Regions from separate parts of the Homo sapiens genome. Here region 1 is linked to region 2. Evidence: fine-mapped expression QTL. A gene starts in region 2. The other region holds a variant in brackets. All regions are shown on one strand. Distances are from middle to middle.

Region 1 (16,995 bases), 46 kb after region 2:
TAAAAAAGAGCACTAAACTTACCCAAGAATGTGCTAAAAAGAAGAAAGGAGTGTTAAATCCTGCAGCAAGATGGAACACAGGAGCTAGCCTCCCCAAGCTGCAATAAATCTGGTTTTTGTTCCCACCTGCCACCGCCCCCTGTGCCAGACTAGTTGTCAAGGTCTCTGTAGAGGGTCCTGAGAATGGAAGCGGAGTGGATGTCCCCAGGAGGGTGAGCAGTGCTCCATCACTTCACCAGCCTTCCCCTCCATGGCAAGTGCAGAGGCATCTCAGGAATAAAGGATGCCATGGGCCAGTGTTTGAAAAATGCATAAACAAGGTTAAATATTCTTTACTGTAGTGCTTCTCAGAGTCTTTAATATGTAACTATGAAACAGGAAGGGACTTATAGTGGTTACTGTTTTTAGGCATTGGAATTCTTTGGGCTGAGAGGATGCTCGGGACAATATCATAGTGGTGTTTCTTAGAACATCCTTGGGAAGTGCTGCCCCTAGTCTCTTGTCCTTTGGCCCATGACAAGTGCTTCCCTGCATCCCACACCCACACATGCCAACTGTGTTCCCTCTGCCTGCAATGTTCCACTTCTAGGTTTCAACATAGCTTCTTCCCTTTCTGTTCATTCAGCTCTCAGCTCAGATGACCCTCCTCATAGAGGTCCTCCCTGACCACTTGACCCTCTCACTCTCTATCCCAAAGCATGTATCATTATTTGAAATGTTTAGAATTGTCTAAATTGGTTACATCTTTATTGTCTGTTTCTCCTATTAGAAGGAAAGTTCAGGCCAGGCGTGGCAGCTCACATTTGTAATCCCAGCACTCTGGGAGGCCGAGGCAGGCAGATCATGAGGTCAAGAGATAGAAACCATCCTGGCCAACATGGTGAAACCCTATCTCTACTAAAAATACAAAAATTAGCTGGGCGTGGTGGTGCATGCCTATAGTCCCACCTACTCGGGAGGCTGAGGCAGGAGAATCGCTTGAACCCGGGAAGCAGAGGTTGCAATGAGCCGAGATCACGCCACTGCATTCCAGTCTGGCAACAGAGTGAGACTCCCTCTCAAAAAAAAAAAAAAAAAAAAAAAAGAAGGAAAGTTGATATCATGAGTGTTGCTCTAGCCCCGGCACTTAGAACAGGGTCTGGCACACAGTTGGTGCCCTGTTGAAGGAAAAAAATGAGTGAACGAACACTGAACTTCAGCCTTTCTATTAAACAGGGTGGAAGACCATGACGATCTCATGCCAATATTTATGCGCTATGACACAATTCTGAAGGAAACTTACGGTGAATACTTCCTGGCCGAACTAATAGAGGCCCAAGATGAAGAGAATCATGCTGTTGTGTGTGAGGTCAGTGACTGATTCATGTGGGAACACACTTAGTGAGAGGAAGGAGGGATGTGAGTGGTGTTGCTCTTGCGTTGCTGGGCACCCCTGGAGCTGCCATTGTCTCCCTGGCCACCCCGGCCCTCCCACTGCCCTTCCAGGTGGTGCACCAGGCCAGCTTCCTCCCCTGGGTTACTGGCTTTAGGTTGTCTTTTGCGAGGTCCTTCCAGATGCCCACGATGCTGTAGATTCTTGCCTTGTCCCTAGAGTGAGAGGGAATGGAAAAGACCCCCCAGGGGTGCGTAGGGGGATTTCTGAGGATCCCCAAATCTCAGACTTCAGAAGTCACAAACCAGCGTTCTGCTGGCAGATGGATTTTGTTTGAGTTGGAAAGGTATTTTTTTTAACTTTTTGTTTTGACATAGTTTCACACTTAAAGAAAGTTTATAACTACCCAGATTCCCCAAATGTTAACATCCAACCCCATTTGTTTTATCATTCTCTTGTTCAACCTTTCTAATTCCCTCTCTCTCTCTCTTTTTCTCTCTTGCTGGCTCTCTCTCTCTCTCTCATGTATATTCTGAACCATTTGAGAGTAAGTTGCATACATAATGCCCCTTTACCTGTAAGTATTTCAATGTATATTTCCTAAAAACAAGGACACTCTCTTAGATAACTGCAATACAATGATCAAAGCCAAGTAATTATGATTCCTGTAATTATTATTATTATTATTATTTTTTGAGATGGAGCCTTGCTCTGTCACCCAGACTGGAGTGCACTGTCATGATCTCGGCTCACTGCAACCTCCGCCTCTCGGGTTCAAGCAATTCTCCTGCCTCAGCCTCCCTAGTAGCTGGGATTACAGGTGTGCGCCACCACGCCCAGCTAACTTTTGTATTTTTAGTAGAGACGGGGTTTCACCATGTTGGCCAGGCTGACCTGAGGTGAACTCCTGACCTCAGGTGATCCGCCCGCCTTGGCCTCCCAAAGTGCTGGGATTACAGGCGTGAGCCACCGTGCCCAGCTAGTTCCTGCAATTCTTTTATCTAATCTACAGACTTCATTCAGATTTTTCTGACAGTCCCAGGAATGTCCTTTATGGCAGAGGTAATTCCAGGCCATTCATTGCATTCAGGTGCTCTGTTTCTTCAGCCTTTTTAAATCTGGAACAATTCTCCGATCCGTCTTTATCTTCCATGACAATTACAGTTTTGAATAGTACAGGTCAGTTATTTTGTAGAATGTCTCCATTTGGATTTGTACAATGTTTTCTCATGATTTGATTCAAGTTATATATGATTAAATATTTTTGAATTAGCAGCTATTGTAAAAATTATGAAAGTCTATGTAAAAATTGGAATTTCTAGCTTTTCTAAACAAATCAGAAGGCCCAGCCTATTGGGCCCAAAAGGCAGCCCACACCCTCTAATTCATGATTCTTCATCTACTCATTTCTCATTATTTGTTAAAACTGTAAGAGCTGTTTAAAGAATATTACTTTTCTTGAAACTTGGAATGAAAAGTTCTCTTACTTGGATGACATGAGCAGTTTGAGGCTTTGTTCTACATCAGTGGTTCTCAAACTTGGCATATATGCAGATCACCTGGGAGGCTTTTAACTATCCATACCATGCCAATGACTTGGATCCAGAATATATACAAAGAACTCTCACAACAATAGAAAAATAATCCACATAAAATGTGGGCAAATGATTCGAATAGACACTTTTAAAAAAAATGAATAAATAAAAGATACAACTGGCCAATAAGCACATGAAAAGACATTCAACATCATTAGTCATTAAGGAAAGGCAAATCAAAACCACACTAAGATACCACTTTACCTCTGCTAGGAGGGTTATAATAAAAAAGCAGGACAATAGCAGATGTTGGCAAGGATGTGGAGAAATTGGAAGCCTCATCCATTGCTGGTAGGAATATAAAATGCTGTGGCCATTTTGGAAAAAGTCTGGTATTTTCTCCAAAAGTTAAACATTTGACCCAGCAATTCCATACACAGAATTGAAAACACATGTCCACACAGAGATGTGTACGCAAATGTTCATAGCAGCATTATTCATAATAGCCAAAAAGTGGAGACAGCCCAAATGTCTATCTACTGATGAATAGATAAACAAGATGTGGTATATCCACACAAGGGAATAGTACCAGGAAATAAAAGAGAACGAAGCACTGATACATGCTACAGCGTGTATGAACCTTGAAAACATGATGCTAAAGAAAAGAAGTCAGTCATAAAGACCACGTATTGTATGATGGCATTTAGATGAAAGCCTAGAATAGACACTTCTGTAGAGACAGAAGGTAGATTAGTGACTGGAGGGAAAGGGGAAGGAGAAGTGACTAATATTGGGCATAGTCGTTGGTTGGTGGGGGGATGAAAATGTTCTGGGATTAGACAGTGGTGATGGGTGTACAATTTTGTGAATATATTAAAAACCATTGAATTGTGTATTTCTTTTTTTTTTTTTTTTTTGAGACAGAGTCTTGCTCTGTTGCCCAGGCTGGAGTGCAGTGATGTGATCTTGGCTGACTGCAACCTCCACCTCCCGGGTTCAAGTGATTCTCCTGCCTCAGCCTCCCAAGTAGCTGGGATTACATGCATGTGCCACCACACCAGGCTAATTTTTGTATTTTTAGTAGAGATGGGGTTTTGCCATGTTGACCAGGCTGGTCTCAAACTCTTGGCCTCAAGTGATCTGCCTCCCAAAGTGTTGGAATTACAGGTGTGAGCCACTGCACCAGGCATGAATTGTGTACTTCTTGAAGGGTTGTTTTTATGGTAGGTGAATTATATCAATTATATCCATTTTTAAAAATCCTGTTGCAGGGGTACACTCAGGCCAATTAAGTCAATCTTTTGGGGGTGAGACACAATCCATATATTTATTTTTAATTTTGGACACTCACTATGTTGCCCAGGCTTTTCTTAAACTGCAGTCCTCCTGCCTCAGCCTCCCAAAGTGCTACGGTTACAGGCATGAGCCACCATGCCTGACCTCAATCTGGATTTTTAAAGATCTCCCCAGATGATTCCAAGGTGCAGTCCAGGTGGTGAAACACTCATCTACATGAGGGTAAAACATACCTGGTGAGAATGACATGACTTTATAGAGATGTGGGTATTAGTTTCTGAAGGTGACAATTGGCCCCTGGAAATTAGATTCTGAAGTACTACATTGAAAGGATTTTTATTTATTTTTTAAATGTTTATTTTATTTTCTTATATTTAGGTTTTGGCATGGTTTCTCAAAGACCCGCTTTCACGTATTCTTGTTTAGCCATTAGCCCCAGGCTACCAGGCTAGCCATAGAAGGGAGGGTTGGAAGCATTTGGGCCCAGCAGTACCATTTGGAAAGCTTGTCTTTACACAACTAGACAGAAACTCCTGAGAAGTGAAATGATTCATACAGACCCCAATAAGGATTTTCATGACCAAACTTTACTTATCAGGTTTAATCAGGGTCTTTGTTTTTGGAAGGCTTTTAATTATTTGGTTCCAAGGTACTAGTTTTACTCTGAATCACTTGAGTCAGTGCTTTGTAGAGAAGCTGCAGTGACCTCTTCCCCCACGTTCTTTCTCTCTCTTGCCGTATGTTTCACACTTTCAGTGTGTGTAAACATCAGAGCAAAGCTGTAGGCTGAAAACTGCAGTTCCAACCCTGCAAGAATCCTTTGGTGTCTCGAAAGAGGCAGAGGGCATCCAGCCCCATCTCCTTCCAGAGGCCGTGCTGCCTCAAGCATCAGAGGCTTTGTGTTCTGTGGAGGGGAGACCACAGACCTCGATCTTAAAATGGAAGGGCAGAAACAAGACTGTGAGCCGGGATCTGGGAGGGGACGTCTAATCTGAAGTGAGCCATGTCTGATGTCTGAAGCCTTTTGGGGTTCAAGATCAATGCTGTTGCTACCCTTTTTCCTGCCTCCCTAGGGGGCTTTTAGGCAATGGTGTGCTGGAGCCAGCTTGCTCTGGCTCTCAAGGGCTGATTGTTAAATCCTCAGGAACTCTGCAAACTGCTTGTTAAACACAGCTATTATTAAAAATTAAATTATAGAAACCTACAGTGTAATAAATTATATTAAAACAAAGTTAATAAATACTTGAAATTCATCACCTTCCATTTTTTTTTACTATTCTCCATGTTCTTGAGGGTTTTTTTTTAAATGTCTGGGTCTCTATACAGTAGATATAAGAAATAATGGCTAGCTACTGCGCATTCCCTCCCAACTACATGTTTAGTGAGATCACACTGTTCACTTGACATTGACCATGATGACAGCGCTTACACCTCAGAAATCGGCAAATGCTACAGATCTGGGCTTTTCCCCCGCAAATGCTGATTAGGCATTTACAGGCACACGTTACTTTAAGGCAACCACTGTCAACCAGAGGAAACAGAAAGAAGTCCATCAAGTTTGTCTTTCTGAACAGCCATGGCAGTTCCAGGCCAGGCATGCAGCATGCCTGAGGGCAAGGCTGTGCCCTGTGGGAAACCCTTACTACTGAAAGGGTTTTTAGTTACAAGGACTTTCTTTGGCTTGATAGCTAGTTTGGAGGAGTTTGGGGCCATCACTTCATACAAGTTCCTTGTCATAACTGTACCCTGGCTTACCTTGACATCTGGTGTTTACTCCAAGCTGAGGTTTTAGGGAAGGGTAGTTGGAGGCCAGCGGCGGCTCCTAGTGACAGATGGGCAGAGCGTCTGCTTTGGCATCATCCAGGGTGTGGGCAGCAGTGGTCCGAGTAGGCACCACTGACCTGCAGGCAGGGAAAGCCTGCCAGGTCAGCCATGCGCTTGGCATCAGGAGGAGAGGATCAGAGCCAGCAGTGGTCACAATGAGGGCAAAACCCTCACAGTGGAATATTGTCACCCAAAAGGGATGGGTGGCTGTAGGGCTTTTTGGATGGAAGCATAAATGAGAAAATACACACGTTTCTGTAAATGGACCTGTTTGGGAAGACAAGGCCACAGTACACATAGTTTTCTAGCAATCTAAACCTTATGTGTCATGATGTAGATATTTACAGGACAAGCAAGAACAACAAAACCTTCAGTTTTGTTCTCCAGTATAAGATAATTGAAGACACTTGTGGTGAAAAGTACTTCTGTCACCAGGAAGATAGATAACAGCCAGCAATCAATGCCTTTCTGTTGTACAAGTTAAAAAGTCCATTAAATCCATTTTTTTTTCAGTGCATACACAAGAATACATTTGGATACTCCTGCAAATTCATATTTAAGAATAGTGTTTCTCAAATCGGTTATTTGAAAGAAACTCAAAGGAAAAAGCAGACACTTCCACAATATGTCCTTGCTCTGTTGTAGTCTGTAATTGTGAACTTTTGTAAATTGTTACAACCCTGGATGAATGATGGGAATATAACAGGTTGTAGAATTGGAGAACGTTAAATCTTTGTTCCTAATGGCAAAACATGTTTTTCTCATTTTCATCAGAATGTGTGATCCATGCCATTTGAAATCAAATTCCAAACACAATGAGCCATTAGTGTAATAGCTCATTACTAACAGCGGTCTTATAAATAATACATTCTTATCATACACATGCAGCTCGCTGTGAAGCCAGCAAAAGGTATTTCAGGCCATCGAAGTTTTGTTGCGCCAGCGCGGCTGTAGATTAGAAGGACATCTCCATGTGAACCAAGATGGATGCCAATTTTCCCTGCCGAGAGTCAGGCTGGCCGTCTCTTTCTGCACATATGGTAGATGGATTGGTTAATCAGCGTCTGCTGAGTCTTGGGCCTGAAATTACAGAGAAGCTAGACAACTGCGGCTATGCAGCCTTTGTTCACGAGTGCAAACAAGACAAACAATCACTTGTTATTTGGGAAAAAAATTAAAATGTTTATTTTGGACTTTTATTAAAGTGTCAATGGCTTTATAAAACAGCTGTGTAAATCCAGGCTTTTTCAGCAAGTATCATTTTAGGGGGCCTGTAAAGAAAGGAATATACATGAAAAAATTAATTTTTAAAAATTCCCCTCATATTTCAGTATTGAGAAGAAAATAGAGGAGGTCTCACTTTTATTTTGCAAACACGTTTGAGAACAAATGATTTTTAACTGGGAGACATATTCGAGAACAAATAGTAGTTTAATACCTATTTTTTTTTTTTTTTTTGGTGTCATTTAAAAAACTGAGTATTATTGTAGCCCGATTCTCTGTTTTAGGAGATTAAAGCATTTTCTCTGACTGGGCATTTATGGAAAGATGCTGCGTTCTTGGGAATAGAGAATGCCTGTGATTATTGAGTTCTGCTACTTTCTGAATGCAATGGTTATCTAAAAGTCTGAACACTTGAGAGATAGGACCCAGTAAATGCAGGTTTCTAATAAGAGCTATCAGAGTCTAATCAGTCAACCAGAATTTGCTTAAAATCTACTAATAATTATTTTATGTGAAATTTAAAGGACTATGTATTTTCTCTCTCTTTTTAAATTTTAAATACTTTCCTTGCAGAAAACAATGAAATACAGAATTACTTAAGGGATATATTAAGGAGTTTCAGTCACAGCCGTCTCTCCATGTGGAATATGATAGAATTAAAGTCTGTTGTTAATTTCTAATGTTTTGGTACCAATCAGGTACCTGGTACCCAACCAAGGTTCAGATCAGCTAGTTACTCATCTTCTCGCCTATGTATTACTCATCAAAGACTGAAAATCATGGGGACGACTGCAAGAGCTTCAGAACCAGGCATTTCAGGGTGATGGGAAGTTCAACATTTGCAGATCAGACCCACCTGGTGAACCAGCCTAGCCTGACTCAAGTTTACTTCACTGGAACATTTTCCACCAAACTTCCTTCCCTCATATCTCCTCCCTATCAGACTATCCAGTTAATAAATAAGTGACTTCAAGACAAATTGAAGAGTTTCTACCTGATAAGGAGCTAGGGACCGTGAACTTTCTCTGTACTGGGGGCTGATCAGATGGGCACTGGAACAATGACCTGTATTCCTGAGAAGTGTGCATGGCAGAGGGAAAGAAAGTAGACAGGAGCGCCAGGCTTATGGTGGGGTACAAACACAAGACACCAAATGGCAGAGGATATGGAGCAGGCAGGAGCATGGTCTGAGCAGAGGGCAAGTGTTCCAATGGTTGAAGGGTCAAGAACTCTGGCAATTTCCCTGTTACTTATGCACCACTAGGTGTGTCCCCAGTGGTCACTTATTGGGACATTTTTTGAGCATGTTTTATGTACTGAAGGAAGACACTTATTCCTCCCTTAAATCTCAAGGTGACTGCCAAACCACCAGCCGACCACATTCTGAGGGCTCTGGAGGTTTCCTGATGAGAATCATTTGACCTCTGATAAAGTAATGAAGTGTTTTGGACTGGGTGTGGTGGCTCATGCCTGTAATCCCAGCACTTTGGGAGGCCGAGGTGGGTGGATCACTTGAGGTCAGGAGTTCAAGACCAGCCTGGCCAACATGGTGAAACTCCGTCTCTACTAAAAATGCAAAAATTAGCTGGGTGTGGTGGCGGGCGCCTGCAGTCCCAGCTCTGCGGGAGGCTGGGGAGAAGAATTGCTTGAACTGAGGAGGCGGAGGTTGCGGTGAGCCAAGATACACCACTGCACTCCAGCCTGGGTGACAGAGCGAGACTTTGTCTCAAAAAAAAAAAAAAAAAAAGAATAATGAGGTGTTTTGGATATTTCAGGTGGAAGGCACAGCTGTTGGGTTCATGAGTGTGTGCTCAAGAGTGAACATGCAACTGCTGCATGAGTGCTTTGACTTGGGCCCTTTCCACGGACTCTGTTTCCCACATCCTGATGACGTTCTGGAATCACCACAAGACCTAAGTGTCCGAAGAAGTCAAGGTACAGTGGCTATCACAGGGACACACTGGGAAATTAAATCT[A/G]TGCTTTATACACATTGCGCTCTTCGCTAAGTGATGGAACTAGATAGGATGCTTTATATTTCCTTCCCCAGTTCCCCTTAAGGAGTAGTTCCCATGGTTGGTCACATCCTTGTGAAATACCTACAAGCACAGATAGTCACAGTGCAGGGGTGGAGTTAGACATAGTGGACTTGGGGCCTTAGGGCTCCCACATTCAGGATGCTCACTTCTTGAATGTTCATTGCTAGAGTACATGTAAGTTATGATGAAATAATTACTGGTGTTTCAGGTTTCACACACACACACACACACACACACACAACCAAATACAACAAGTGAATTTTTCAAATCAAGAACTCAGGAAATTTTTTATGCTTTTAAGTTTTAATCCCAACTTTCAGTGCTTCTGTTTTTGTCTTTGACAAATCATTATGTAGTATAGGTCTGTTGCAAGTAGTCATTTTTAACTTGCTTAAGTTACTTCTAGTTATATGAAATAATACCATCAATTTTAAAATATTGTCTGTATCAAGATTTTCACCACGTTCAATTAGGTAACCTCAAACTTTGATGTTTTAATTTAGTGAGGTCTTACTGTATCCATGGGTATCTTTGCGGTTACATATTTGGGTTCTTACAGAAGACAGATGCAGACAGGCAAGTTACCATGGGTACATCAATTCACTTCTCCAAAGCTGGATTTCTTCATTTGTAAAATGGGCATAATAGTAATACCTCCCACACGGGGGGGGGGTTGTGAAGTTTCACTGAGATAAGCCATGTAGAGTGCTTTGCACAGTCAACACTCAATAAATGTTGATCATCACCGTTAGCAATTATTTTTTCTTTGTGTCGGCCTTCCACCAACTTGAATCTTCCTAGGGTAAAATCAGGGTATTTCAAATTGCTATGCTTTCTCCTGTCTGAAAGATTACACCAAGATTGTTCAGAAATGGGGAAAGGAGCACTTGGCTGGTGGCAAAGGACTTGCCAATCTAGACAACAGAAGGCAGTGACTTGGCTAAGCTTATCCCCTGAATGCATAAACCCCGTGCACAGTGTCTAGACCTCATCTGAACATACACACTTATCACAGAGAACCTGCAAAGCCACAGATAGAGGAGTTTCCCTTTTGTGCTGATGATAACAACACCCTCCCCAAAAGAGATTTGGGGTCCTTATTGTTTAATAGTGAAGCCTTGCTTGCCATGCTTCCCAGAGAAGAACTCTACCATAGGAGAGTTCTGAGGGAACTTATCAGTGTGAGACAGTCTGGAACCATAAGTTGTCATTGTTATTTTCCAATGCTTAAATTCTTCTTTGAAAGCAGCACTAAATGGCCTTTTTTTTTTTTTGAGATGGAATTTAACTCTTGTCACCCAGGCTGGAGTGCAATGGTGTGATCTTGGCTCACTGCAACCTCTGCCTCCAGGGTTCAAGTGATTCTCCTGTCTCAGCCTCTGGAGTAGCTGGGATTACAGGTGTGCGCCACCACGCCCAGCTAATTTTTGTATTTTTAGTAGACACAGGGTTTCACCATGTTGGCCAGGCTGGTCTTGAACTCCTGACCTCAGGTGATTTACCTGCCTCAGCCTCCCAAAGTGCTGGGATTACAGGTGTGAGCCACTGCACTTGGCCCTAAATAGCCTTTTTATGGCTGAATATTCTCACATGTAAAATGGAGATAAAAATAGTATCTAACCCAAAGAATTGAGGGGACAATTAAATGTTAGAATCTATGTGTTGTGCTTAGCTCAGCGCCAAACACAAAGTAAGTCCTGAACATTTAAAAATATTTTTTCCCCTGTGGCTGTTGTAATGAAGAACAAGTTGAAAAGATGTAGTCCCTTCCAGTGTGTTTCTGAGTGGCTCTGATGCTACTGTTTCCTACATAGAATGAATGGAAAATTCCTTAGAAACTTTATGGGGCAGTGAAATTCAAAATTTAAACTGAACCCTGGACTTAAAAACATACGTAAGCTAGTATATCTCTAGCAAGAGCCCACAGAGATATGGGCACTAAAAGAAGTCCTACTTCTGTTTACCTCCTTCAATATTTTTACCTAAAATAAGTCAATCTAGGACAGATGGTAAGTAAAAGAAATAGGAAAACTTATCTTCTGTGCCTTGTTTATTTTTGAAAGTCAGCTTTATGTTCATTGACACAAAGATGATTCCTTATGAAATTTTCACCAGGGAGCTGGCATTGTAGACTTCCACATAACTTCCAGGGATTGAGTCACAAATCATCAACAGCTCATTATATCTAAGAAAAGAGTCATCAGCACATTTTGCTGCCATCTTCCTATCAACAACAACAAAGAATGAGGCTCCAGAGAAAATTCTAAATGTACTGTGATCTGTTACTTTCCTTTCCTGATGAAAGTCTCAAGTTAAAGGAAATATAATTTCTCTAAAATATGAACTAAAATTCTTGTTTCAAATGAGCACACATCACTGTGTCTCATATCTTGTATTTTGTTTAGTGCTTTTTTCCATTTCAAAGGATTTTTATATATGTAATCTCATGTTATCCTATAACTTGGTGTAGGAGAGCTAGGGAAGGTGAGGTTCTCTCCATTTTTTACTTGCTAAAGCTCATCCAAGCTTTTAAAGCTCATCAGTGGCTGACCCAGAAGGCAGACCCAGCCTCTCTCTGCTTTCGTGCATGATGATAGTCTTGGCAAGGTAACGTCTTATCTTGGATGGTTTTGACAGAAAACTCCAATGACGGGTCTGCTACACAAGATACATGATGAGTTTTTTCACTTTATTTTTATTTTTTATTTTTATTATTGTTATTTTTTTGAGATGAAGGCCCCCCTCTGTCACCCAGGTTGGAGTACAGTGGTGCAATCTCAGCTCATTGCAACCTCTGCCTCCCGGGTTCAGGTGAGTCTCCTGCCTCAGCCTCCCCAGTAGCTGAGATTACATGTGTGTGCCACCACACCCAGCTAATTTTTTTTGTATTTTTAGTAGAGACAGAGTTCATCATGTTGGCCAGGCTGGTCTTGAACTCCGGGCCTCAGGTGATCCGCCCACCTCGGCTTCCCAAAGTGCTGGGATTACAGGAGTAAGCCACCATGCCCGGCCAGTTTTTTCACTTTAATAAGTTATTTAATGAATGATCACTTCAGTGGGTGATCAGTGACCTGCCCATATCCCTCCGACTTTTATTTTGTATGTGTGTGCTCCAAACAACTCCTATCTGCTGGAATCTTCACCTCTGTGTCTGCAGGCTTTTTTAAAACTGTGAAAGGCCACTCTGACCTATGCAGGGGTCAGGCTGGAAGTGTCAGGAAATTATCACTCAAGGAATAGACTCTGTTTCCCTATGTCACATCCCAGCTTCCCTGCTGGTGCTTTCTCCATTGACTCCCAAATAAATGGTTGTAACTGAATCTTTAACTTAAGATTTGCCTCTGAGGCAAGTGAGACCAAGACACTACTAGTTAGGTCTTTTCCTACCAGCTGTGAAAGCATTTATTTATACACAGCTGACTTGGGTGAGAGTATAAATACCCCAGCTCCCTCACTCCTCAGGTGGGAGGACTCAGATATGTGAGTATTGGCTGGTTTCCCAGAGTTCCCCCAAGGGATTAAGTTTCAGTTGTCCATAATAGTAATCTGGGTGATAACACATGTGTTGTTGTTTTTTAACTTTTAAGTTCAGGGGTACATGAGAAGGTTTGTTACATAGGTAAACTTGTGTCATGTGGGTTTGTTGTACAGATTATGGCATCACCCAGGTATTAAGCCTAGTACCCATTAGTTACTTTTCCTGATCCTCTCCCTCCTCCCACCCTCCACCCTCAAAAGGCCCCAGTGTGTGTTGTTCCCCTTTATGTGTCCATGGACAACACACATTTTATTAGTTGCCTTTCCTTCCCTGTCTCTTTCCTCACTCTCCTACTGGTACATCCTGGAACCACCTCCAAAATAAACTGCTTATTCTCAAGCTCTTCTCTCAAGATCTGATCTTTCCCTGCCAGCTGTGAAAACTTGCAATTTCACACCAACCTCAACCCTTTCAAGCAGAATAATGTCAAGACTCAGCATTCTTAAATGAATCCAGAGGCCCTCCTTTTTCTAGCTCCTAATACACATGGTAATTAGCTTACTGTCCTTCATCATCTCAGCCTTATCAAAAGTTTCCCTGGAGGTCTGGCTGGTGTTAACAGAAAGGAGGGCAGAGCTGGTGTGGCTGACCATGGAGAAAGCTGACTTGGCTGGTGTGGTGCAGAGAAGCCAGCTTGTTTATGTGCTTATTCCATGACTGCTTGTCCTGAGCAGAAAGTGCTTTTCAGGATCTATTTTTGGAGGTTTATTAAGTATGTTCTCAATTCCAACAGTTTAATGAAGATCTAAATAAAATGCTAGGTTCTACCTTAAAAAAAAAGTTTCCCTGAATCTAAAATGTTTAACTGTGTACAATCAATTTGTGTTTTACCTGAATAATTTGTGTATGTTTTCATAGCTACCCATTTTGCATGTATAACCTATTACATACTTGTAAACTTTGGTTTTTATGTACTAAACATTGGGAGTAAACTGGGACCAATGGGAATAGGTTCTAAGGATGTAAATTTTGTCCAAGCATAAGGAAAAACTAGTAGAAGTGTATTTTTTTTATTTAATGGAGGACCTAGTGTGGAAGTAGCAAGTTCCCAGAATATTGGAAGAATTCATAAAGAAACAGTCATACACACTTACAAAGGGCTTTCTGCTTGTGTGGAAGATTATACTGAATGAGATGTAAGATCCCCTTAAATGCTAAAAAAAACTTATTGAATACATATCAAGATGTTCCATATGCCTGGCACTTTATGAATATTTTCCTTCAGTGACAATAAAATGGTTCAAAACAATATTTTTTCCAGTTGGCCGCAGCACTGGCCCTGCCTGGTGTTTGCAAATCAAGCTGTGTCTTTTGTTAGCTGCATCACCCAATAAATATTTTGGAATCAAGCTTGAGCTGGCAATTTTCTTGATAATGCATAAGGCAAAATAGGGCACAACCTGCATTTCCACAGCTGTACTGGCATTGCCGCATTTAATAGTTAAAATAAAAAAATAAAAACAAGCAAAAAACAAAACTTTTGTTCCTCATGTAGGCCGTTGAGATCTGGGCAGCATGAATCTCTGTTTTAAAAGACTCCTGCAAGGTTCCGATTTGTAAATCTCATTATATACCCAGGGCCCACCTTACAAAGTCTCTGCAGAACTTGATGTGCTCCTTGGCAGGGAGAGATTTCACTTTACATAATAGAGTTATGGGCATTCAAAAGAATAACTAGTGTAGCCCCTTGTCACCAAGTCATCCAGGAAAACTGTTGCTCACTATACATATAAAAGACCCTTCAAAATAGAATTTTTGTAATGTCTCCACGTAAAACATCGCAATATTGCCTTTAACTTTTTTTTTTTAAATTACTCCTGCTGTCAGGAAATGTCTTTATATGTCTTATTTCAATTTTATGTCTTGTTTTATTGAACTCACATTTGCTTCTTATCTCAGATTCCCTCATCTCTTGGGTTAGGAAACACCTAGACCCACTCTCCCTGTGTCGGAGCTAAAAAACAATGGCTACATTAAGTCTTATTGATTGTGTATTAAATCATCCCAGGTCTTTTCGCCTCTCTTCCTAAGGTTCCATTTTATATTCCTGGATTCCCTTCTATTTTACTTTATTCTTCTTTTAACATGGATTCCAAACAGGACTGGAGCACGTATCTACAGGGTGTGTTAGGATTTCTGCTGCCGTCTTTACATTACAGATCTCGGAACCTTGTTTTTAACAGTCAGTTCATTCTGTAGTTAACCAGTGACCCACCAGGACTTAGTCTGCCAGGGCTGCCATAACAAAGTGCCACAGACTGGGTGGCTTAAAAAACAGAAATTGATTTTCTCACATTTGTGAGGCCAGAAGTCAAGATGTTGGAGGGGTCAGTTTCTTTTGAGGCCTCCCTCCTTGACTTGTAGACGGCCATCTTCTCCCCATGTCTTCACAGGGTCTTCCCTCTGTGCCCATCAGTGTTTTTGGTTTTTCTTTTTATAAGGACACCAGTCACAATGCATTAGGGCTCACCTGTAACTTTAACTCAGTTACCTCTTTAAAGACTGTCTGCAAATACAGTCCCATTCTGAGGTACTAGGGGTTAAGCCTTCAGTGTACGAGTTTTGGGGGTGGGAGGAGGCACACTACAGCCCAGGAGAGGCTCTATGGTATCGTACTGCCTTCCTCTGGTCCCTAATAGGGGGGCGGTATGTGTTCAGGGTGGGGAATGTTTGGATGTCTACATCCTCTCATAAGCCCATGTTCTTCCCCTGGCTGGATGTAAGCCGCACCCACCCAACCTTCTGTGCCCGAGGAAAGTCCCTGTGTCCCACCAATGGGCTTCTCATTGTTCCTGGCATGGGTTTCAGATCCCCCTAGGAGAGGAGTTCTGTTCTTACAGGCTTCTGTGCCCTGGTCACCTCCACTTCCCAGGAGGCTAGGGTGAGTTCTGGGGCCCATTATAGCTCTCACTCAGTGGCCACACAGCAATATTACTCACTTGGTAGCAGTTGCCACCAAATTTGCCATTTTCTCATTGTGATCTGGGCTTTGAGCATCTCAGTTCTCCCTCCTCCCCTTTTCTTTCCTTCTCCTAGATCCTGTGGTGTGGTTCTTTGATGCCTGTACTCAAGGCTCTGATAGTAATGCAGACAGTGGCAGCAAAGTCGGCTTTACTTAATGTTCATACATAGCCCTAATATACTAACTTATACTTGTTAAAATTTGAATTATTTATTTATTTATTTTTATTGTTTTGAGACGGAGTCTCGCTCTGTCGCCCAGGCTGGAGTGCAGTGGTGCAATCTCGGCTCACTGAAAGCTCCGCCTCCCAGGTTCACACCATTCTCCTGCCTCAGCCTCCCGAGTAGCTGGGACTACAGGCGCCTGCCACCATGCCCGGCTAATTTTTTTGAGTTTTTTTTTTTTAGTAGAGATGGGGTTTCACTGTGTTAGCCAGGATGGTCTCGATCTCCTGACCTTGTGATCCGCCCACCTCAGCCTCCCAAAGTGCTGGGATTACAGGCATGATGAATTTCATTTTTTTAAGCCACTGAATGTCTTTAGCATATGAAGGCAACATCTTCGAAAGCTTTAGCTACTCTTGCCTATATATATATATATATATATATATATATATATATATATATATATATATAAAATTTGATTTTCTAGAATCTACTTTGTTAATTCTAAAGCTTTGCAAGAGATGTTGATAAAACAAATAAATCATACCAGACCTATACCCAGGCATCTCCAATGTTGAGAGTTTAGACTCTTTCAGGGCTTTCAGGGCAGAGCCCCTGGACTGGTAGGATACCAGGAAGACTGTAATCCAGACCTGAAGCCCAGAACTTGTTGTCAGGGACATGACCCCAAAGCCATCTTGGTGAGCCTTTTGGTTATTTCATAAAACCTGTTGTCAATTCTCCATCTTAATTCCAAAGCTGATTTCTAAGCCTTTTCTAATGTCTTCAAAAACAACCATAGCATCAAAGGATGGCAACCACTTAAGAATCTATTATTTTGCAGACAGCAACATGACTGAGATCTGCATTCCTCCTTTCCTCTTCAGCCCTGGGAGCGACCTGTGATATCACAGCCTTGTTCTCCAACAGTCAGATTCATTTCACAATGGTGGAAATACAAGCGCATTTTTGTATGGGGCCTGGAGGTCTTCAGAAGAAAAGTGGCTTTATTTATATTCGTTATGATCATTATGTGCTGGGATT
Region 2 (8,088 bases):
TCATCATGTAAATAAAATAAATACAGAAGATGTGGAACTTTGCTAGTCTATAAAAGGCTGTTTTGTTAGATCAGAAACTTACCAGAACTGATTAACTCGAGGCAGCGTTGTTATGGCCCGGTCCCAGATATTTCGAGCATGGTTGACTTGGCGATTCTTCATTTCCATTTCTGCGTATTTCAGCCAGAGTGTAATATTTCGGTAGTCTACATCTAAAGCACGCTCGTATATGGATCGAGCCCTTAAGAAGCAAGATTTGCAGGGCATCAAAAATAGAGCATTCAACACATGTAGCAGTTATTTCAAACTATCTGGAATGCACTGATGTTTTATTAGGTGTCTACCATGAGCCAAGTTCTGGGCATAAAAAAATGAAAAGATATAATGCTCTCAAGTACCTTACAAAGTCTTATAAAAAGACATGCATGCAATTATAATGCAATGTGATTTATGTTATAGTCAAGATCTGCACGGGAAACAGAGAGGAAGAAATGAAAATGTTTGGTGGAAAAGGCTAAGTAGTAGGTAATTGTAGAAATGAGAACTTGAGGAACGTTCCGATTTACCAGGAAACTAAGTTTGGTGAGGAGGGGGTGCTCATTCCAGGCAAGGAGAACAGTCAAGCCTCACGATAAGGAGACATGATATATTCAGGGAGTGGCACATACACAGGCACAGTGGGGGAAGGAGGTATGCGGGGAGAATGCAGAAAGCTAGACCACAGGAAGGGCCAGATTGCAATTTTTATTTTTTTTGGCCATTGGTTTTATTTTTTTTGGCCATTGTTTAGCTGAAATTTGTAAAAATCTCAATATATACAAAGCAAATGAAATTGTGCTTCTTTAGCTACAACTGACAAGATCTATCTCTAAAGCCTCTTCTGCCACCCTCCCCAGGACTATTCTACCCCAGTACTCCTGAGGCCCTCAAGGGAACCCTAGGGTTCCATGGAACCAAAGTTGAAAATTTCTACCCGAGGCACAATCTTTTACCTGTGCTTTAACTTTTTCTTCTTTTCTTTTTGGTATCTGTTAATCTATGAATCATTATATACAAAACTACACTCTCAGTAATTTTACCTTTGAATCTCCTTTAGGCTTTCTTCCCATTGTGCGTATTTTATCCAGTTACTAATCACAGTCCTGTTTTTTCTTATATTATCTTCAAAAGTCTGGAAGAAGGCAAAAAGGGTCAAGTCAAAAGACAAATGACTAAAAATGACAGCACCCTTGGTCTATTTTAAGTCTTGTACTAAAATGGTTATTCATTTTGTTCATATTTAAGAGAAATTACATCCTGGAATCCTTGAGGAATAAGAAACCCACTACAGAAGGTTACAGTCAACTAACTGATACTTTAAAATGGTCTATGCTTGTCCCTAATAAAAAATGTTTTTGACTATTACCTTTAAGTCCTCTGGTAATTCTCAGAATTTCATATATAACAGCATTAGTGCTTTAAAACAGTCCCACATTCTAGAGTGAAGAGGTCAAATCAGATCCCAAAGTCTTCTCATGGTCCTTTTGCAGACCTCAATTCCTTTTCCTTTCTTTCTTTCTTTCTTTTTTTTTTTTTGAGACAAAGTCTTGCTCTGTCGCCCAGGCTGGAGTGCAGTGGCACGATCTCGGCTCACTGCAGCCTCTGCCTCCCGAGTTGCTGTGATTCTCATGTCTCAGCCTCCCGAATAGCTGGGATTACAGGCACCTGCCACCACGCCTGGCTAATTTTTGTATTTTAGTAGAGATGGGGTTTCACCATGTTGGCTAGGCTGGTCTCAAACTCCTGACCTCAGGTGATCTGCCCGCCTCGGCCTCCCAAAGTGTTGGGATTACAGGCGCGAGCCACTGTGCCCAGCCAGATCTCAATTCTTAACACAGAAGGTGGTATAGACAGAAGTACACAGTGCAGCCTTACTAAGCATACCCTCCTTCTTGTTGTCAGTTGTTCCATCTGCTAAACTTCCGCTCACTTTGATTCAGCATCAAAAATTATGCAGATTCAATTTCTTTACACTTTAACCAGACAACTCATGGCATATTTTATATAGTTCAGAAAAATGCTGTTATCTGGTAACCAGAAGTACATTATTCATGCGTCTGGAAACACTTAACCTCATCTTGCCCTACAGAATCCAACCAATGAGGAGCTTTTCAAACTGACCGATACAGTCTTAACAATTAGTGGACTGAAAGATACCACACTGACTGACCTTCCTTTTCCTTAGTTTATAATCATTTAATTCTTCTTCATCTGTGATCTTCTGTTGAGGTGGAGGTGGAAGAAGCTCAAGTTCTCTTTCTTTAGCCTCTCTTAAGAGTTGTTCAGCAGTTATCTGTACCTCAGCCGGGGCTTTGTTTTTCACCTTTTAAGAAAGAAGACATTTCTATTTTTAGTAGTTGCTCTTCACACAAGGCTTAAGAAACAAACATACATTTTTTAGGATATGAACTTTGTTAGTATTATCACAAGATGCCCTTTTTGTATGACATGTTCCCATTCCTCCATGAGACTGAAAAGAAAAAAAAAATACCGTTTTCTCTCTTATTCATAGTATCTACTGCAAAGCCATAGGTAAAAGTCTCAAGAGAAAAAGGTGGCAAAAATAATAGCAAGTTTTCCCTTTTAGATGAGTATAATAATAAACTTTGAGGCCGTCTAGGTAAAATTCTGACCAGAGGTTTTGTTTTATCAAAATGTGTAGCACATCTTATTAACAGCATTACAACCTGCATTTACAGAATTCTTCAACTTATTTAATGCCCCGGTGTATAACTGGGTTTGGTTTTACATGGCACTTCAAGTCAAAGGCAATTTCAGTAAGTTCTCATCATTAGACTGTAAGCTTCTTGAGGTCTTAGAAGCTTACAGTCTAACGTAGCTTAGAGCTGTGCTGTCCAACACAGTAGCTATGAGTCACATGTGGTGAGTACAAATTGAGGTGGACTGTAAGTGTAAAATACACATTGGTTTTGAAGATGAAGTATAAAAAAGAATAAACTACCTCATTACATTTTTTATACCGATTACATGTTGAAATGATAATATTTTGGATACATTAGCTCAAATAAAATATATATTATCAAAATTAATTTCACTTTTTTGCTTTGTTTTTACTTTTTAATGTAGATATGAGAAAATTTAAAATTTCATATGTGGTGTGCATTATATTTCCATTGGACCAGTGATGCCCAATAAAAGTTTATGTAGCTGAATTATAAAAAATGTTACTTAATGCCACATGTGGAGTAATGATGATAATGGTGATAGCTCATATTTAATAAGCACTAAGTGCCAGACACAGTGTTACTTGCTCTATATGCATTACTCCTGCGAGTCAGACAAATAGTTATGTAAAGGTCCAGTTCAAGAGAGTCATCCGGGCTCAAGAAAGACTGGAGGGAGGGTATCTGTAAAGGCTTCAAAGTCTGCCACATATTAAGCACTTGGTAAGTATTAGCTATCAAAGGAAATACCAGATAGTAAGTCTACTGTTTAATTAACTTATGATACTATACTACTCCTACCGTCTACTCTCGCCCTCCGCTGTCAGCTGGGCTAACTCCTATTCAGCCTTCAAGTCTCAGCTTAAAGGTCATTTCCTCAGCAAAATTTACTTTCAGGACCCCTTCATACGACCCCCTTATTCACGCCCATGGCATATTCTACTTTGCCTCTCGGTAACATCTAGCAAGGTCGTCTTTATACAGAAACTCGTGTTTTGAGTACTGCTTGTGGCCAGCGTACGAGCGTAGCTTCCCAGCGCCCAGTGCAGTGCCTGGCTCAGTAAATCTTCACCGAACCACCCCACTCCACTCCCCAGCAAAACCACCCCAGAACGAAGGCCACGCCAACGCGGGTCGTGCTCCGCGATGACAAGAGCCCGCGCCCCACCACCAGCTGCCCTTCCTCTCCATCTCTCAGGGTGAGCCTTCTCCCCGGCGGGAACACTCTCTCCCAACCCGGGCACCCTCAGGGCTGAGGGATGCCCCTTTCCTAGGCCACCTCCTACAAGGCCCCTCGCGATCGCCTACCTTGGCCACTTTGGGAATCCGCTGCTTCCCGGCCGCGGTGGAGGCCGCCATGTCTGCAGCAGTCGACCTCTGGACACCTGTCCCCGGCACGGACGCTAGAAATCGGCTCTGAGAGCTCACCGAAACCACAAAGCTTTCAGAAAACAAACAGGATCTCGGAACCGGAAGCGGAACTTGCAGGACTGACCTTTGACCTCTCGCTTGAGCCGTGACGGAGGCGGCACCGTTTCCATGGTGACCAGGCTGCGCGTCCTCCTTGCGGCAGCGCGTGGAGTGCGGCGTCCTGGAGCTGCGGATGAGGTGGGTAACGCCGTGCTGACTAGCAGCGACGCAAGGACTGCGGTGCAGGGCGTCCAGGGCGCATCCCCAGGTCAGCCTCCGGAACTGGGATGACCAGGCGAGGACGAGTGGCTCTGTCGAGCCGTGGCGCCCTGCAAGGGAGTAAGAACGGAGCTCCAATCTGGATGCTCGAGGGCGGGGGAAGAAGGGAGAGCGAGGAAACTACCATTCCCAGCATGCGACGGGGCGAGCTGCCGCCCTTTTAGGCTGCAATGCCTCGAGCATTGCATTCTAGTAGTCTCTGGGTCCACGCCCCCTCGTTTCTGGTTTCGGGACAGTTGTGCCCAAATAATTCTAAGGTGCCCAAATAATTAACTCTAAGGCTTGGAATTAAAAATAACAGAAGGTACTTTGAAGCCAGATATTAGGAAAAAATATAAATAGAGTAACTGGAAAACAACTCAGTCTTGTGATAAGAAACATGTTTAAATTCTGTGTGTGCCTTAATTACTCTAGTTAAATTTTCTTAGCCTCAATGTCCTCAACTATAAAACAAGGCTAATAACATCTGTTTCACTAGGATTAAAGACAAATGCTCAGTAGATGTTAGCTGTTATAATACTTAACCTGCCCTCAAAAACTGAAAAGCAAAGGTTAAGAGAATTTTTTTTAATAGACATTTTTAGAGAAGTTTTAGGTTCACAACAAAATTAAGTGGAAGACACAGAGATTTCCTCCCTCCACAGCTTCCTGCTATCAATTATTGTACCTCTTCCCTCCTCTAACAGCCTCCAACTCTTAAAAATATCCTCCACCAGAGCAGTACATTTGTTACAATCTTGAACCTACATTGACACATCATTATCACCCAAAGTTCATAGTTTATATTAGGGTTCACTCTTGGTGTACATTCTATGAGGTTGGACAAATGTATAATGACATGACTTGGCAGCTCATTTGTTAGGATAATTTCCACAGTTGCAAAGCTCTTTTGGTGTTTGGGGAAAATATATATTTATGTATGTAGTAATATCACGTCTACCAATGCAGATATTACTTTCAACAAAAGATTTATGCAGATTTCTAGAACTGCAGTCAGTTATAACCAACATCAATGTATTTGCCATAACTCTTTATTAACCATATTATTTAGATATTTTATCTCACTTTTCAAAATTTAAATAGAGAAGATTTTATATCACTTTCATAAAGCCACCTAACAAAATAAATAAATATTAAAAAGATGTTTCTTTGAAGTGATTTTCCTTAAATGTGTTACTGTAAACAATTGATTTACCAAATGAATCATTGGTTTAATCATCTGTTGCCTTTGCTCAAAAGTACAAACATGCTAGAATACTTTGCTTCTGATCACCATCCTTCTCTCTTACATTTCTGTTGTCTGGCAATTCAGTTCATCTCTGTGTGTGTTTTTTTTGTTTGTTTTTTTTTTTTTTTTTTTTTAGGAAAAATGTATTATCCTTCTTACTTTTTGCCATCAATGCTTTTGTAGATATACCTTCATGTTTACCTTCTTATTTCCCAGCATTTAATCTTGTATTCCACTTCTTTCTGATTTTATTCTTCTCAGAATATACCATCTCCTAGTTCTTTCTACAAGATTCTTTGAATTCTTTCAGTCTTTGTATGAAATTGTCTTTATTTTATCTTCATTTTAAAGTGATTGTTTAGGTTTATCAGTCTAGGTTAATGGTTATTTTTTCCTTTTATATTTTTAAAACACTATTCTAGTAGTTAGAAAACTATGGGCCGTAGACTAAATTCAGCCCATTGACTATTTTGTATGGACTGTGAATGAGCTAGGGATATATATATATATATATACACACACACATACATACACATATACACACACACATTTTACATTAAACTTTATATGTAGTTTACATTTTAAACATTTTTTAAAAATTACATGGCACATGAAAATTATACATAAGTCAACTTTCAGTGTATGTAAGTAAAATTTTGTGGGAATACATTCATGCTCATTTGTGCCGATATTGTCTCTGGTTGTTACTGTGCTACAATGGCAGAGTTGACTAGTTGTGTAGACAACATGTGGCTCATAAAGCTTAATGTATTTATTCTCTGGCCTTTTACAGAAGTTTGCTAACCCCCGTGCTACTGGCTTCTAATGTTGCTCATGAGAAATATTCTGTCAGTCTAATTATTTTTTATAGACAGTCTGTCTTTTGTCAGGTTCCTTTAAAGTTTTCTGTTTGTCTTTAGGGTTTTGTAGTTTTACTATATATTTGGAGTTTATTTGTATTTTTTGCTCTGAACTGAAGGTTCATGTCTTTCATCCATGCTAAAAGTAATTAGCCATTATTTTCAAATGTTTCATTTATTCCTTTTGGAATTCCCATAAGACAGATGTTTTTCATTCTGTCTTACATGTGTCTTTACTGAATTCTGTATTTTCTGTTTCTATGTGCTTCTTTCTAGATAATTTGTTCATAAGTATCTTCCAGTTTATTTTCTTTATTCTTCTGTTTTTAACCCATCCTCTTAGTTTAAATTTTAATAACCACGTATTTCATTTTTTAAGTTTCTGTTCTTTTTTAAATAATGACCTGTTCTCTTCTCATGACTTTTGTTTCTCTTTCTATATTTCTTTATTATAAACATACTTAGTTTGTAGTCTGTTTCAGAGTCTATCATCTAAAGTTCTTGGTGACTCCCATAATACACAGATTGTGTGGACTAGAATGCCATACCCACTTTAGTCTAGAATTTGGACTTCTCAGCAGTATTTTTGCTTTATTTTCTACCTAGAGCTTTGTGTAGAGAAAGCTTGTCACTTTCTTGGGCTGGTGAGTTTAATTTTTCTAGCCCCCTCACTTACCGAGGGGCCCATCCAAAGTCCCAGGTAGATGCATGGTTTAATTTTTAATTCTCTGTTTGGAGTGAGGTCCATTCTATCCCCAAAACCTGTGTCAGATCGGCTCACATCATTGCCACCTGGTTGGAGAATTTCCCTCGCTCGCTTTCTTTCTTCTTTTCTTGTTTTCTTTTTACCAAAGTCAGTTATCTAATTAATTATACTTCCTTATTTTATTCAGAATTTTTATATACTTGTAGCATTAGTTTATGATATGTTTCACAAACAAGATGTCTCATTCCAATTTTGCTTTCAATTTAAAACCAGAACAAGGAATGACAATATTTATGGTTAGCTTCGATAGGAGTCTAGACATTATTAATTTCTCCTTCATTGTTTTCCCTGTTTTGAGCTCACTGGCTAGTATATAATAAAATGGCTTTCCCTATGAAGGAAAGAAGGGAGGGAAAGAGAGAAGAGAGACTTACAGAAATTGAGACAATGAGAGAGAAATTGAAATCATTTTGTGACCTACTGTTTTTGTCAACAGCATTTCCCAAAGTGTCCTTCTGGAACGTTAGGTTCTCCACTGTTGCCGTCATTAGAGATTCTCTTCCCAAAGAGTGTCGGAAAGGCTGGGTTATACAAAGAAAACAAGTTGCTTTATTATGGAACCTCTCAAAGATGTTAATGGGCCTGGTGGCCCTTCAGGAAGCCTATTGCGAGCATTTCCTACACTTAACCACAGAACTTTTTTGGTCTCAAAATATGTCTCAAGACTGCTGACCTTCAGGGCTCCAGTTTGGAGAACTCTATTAAGAACATAGGCAGCAGCTGTCAGTATTTCCCCAGTAACTCTTCACCACATGCCATCGTGGCCGATTAAATATAAGAGGACCCTGAATCCGTAAATAATTCCTTTCAATGTTTTTCCAA

The links. PIP is the estimated chance that this variant, and not a neighbour inherited with it, causes the effect.
Region 1: its variant is the best candidate, but not a certain one, in a credible set for the expression of CFAP61 in prefrontal cortex (GTEx, PIP 0.89).

The regions. Positions count from the first base shown.
Region 1 is chr20:20,089,629-20,106,623 of GRCh38, forward strand. It overlaps CFAP61 (cilia and flagella associated protein 61), which reads left to right. Exons shown (of 27, transcript NM_015585.4): 7 at 1,216-1,348; 8 at 9,027-9,186. LOC124904880 (a long non-coding RNA gene) reads right to left here and starts at 6,127. Exons shown (of 2, transcript XR_007067553.1): 1 at 5,959-6,127; 2 at 4,816-5,135. RefSeq lists an enhancer at 16,554-16,995. The variant A/G (reference allele first, on the strand shown) is at 9,228.
Region 2 is chr20:20,048,261-20,056,348 of GRCh38, forward strand. CFAP61 (cilia and flagella associated protein 61) reads left to right here and starts at 4,272. Exons shown (of 27, transcript NM_015585.4): 1 at 4,272-4,331. CRNKL1 (crooked neck pre-mRNA splicing factor 1) reads right to left here and starts at 4,206. Exons shown (of 14, transcript NM_001278628.2): 1 at 4,032-4,206; 2 at 2,210-2,362; 3 at 1,080-1,171; 4 at 83-241. The coding sequence starts at 4,082. RefSeq lists enhancers at 4,061-4,230, 4,241-4,540 and a silencer at 4,631-4,680.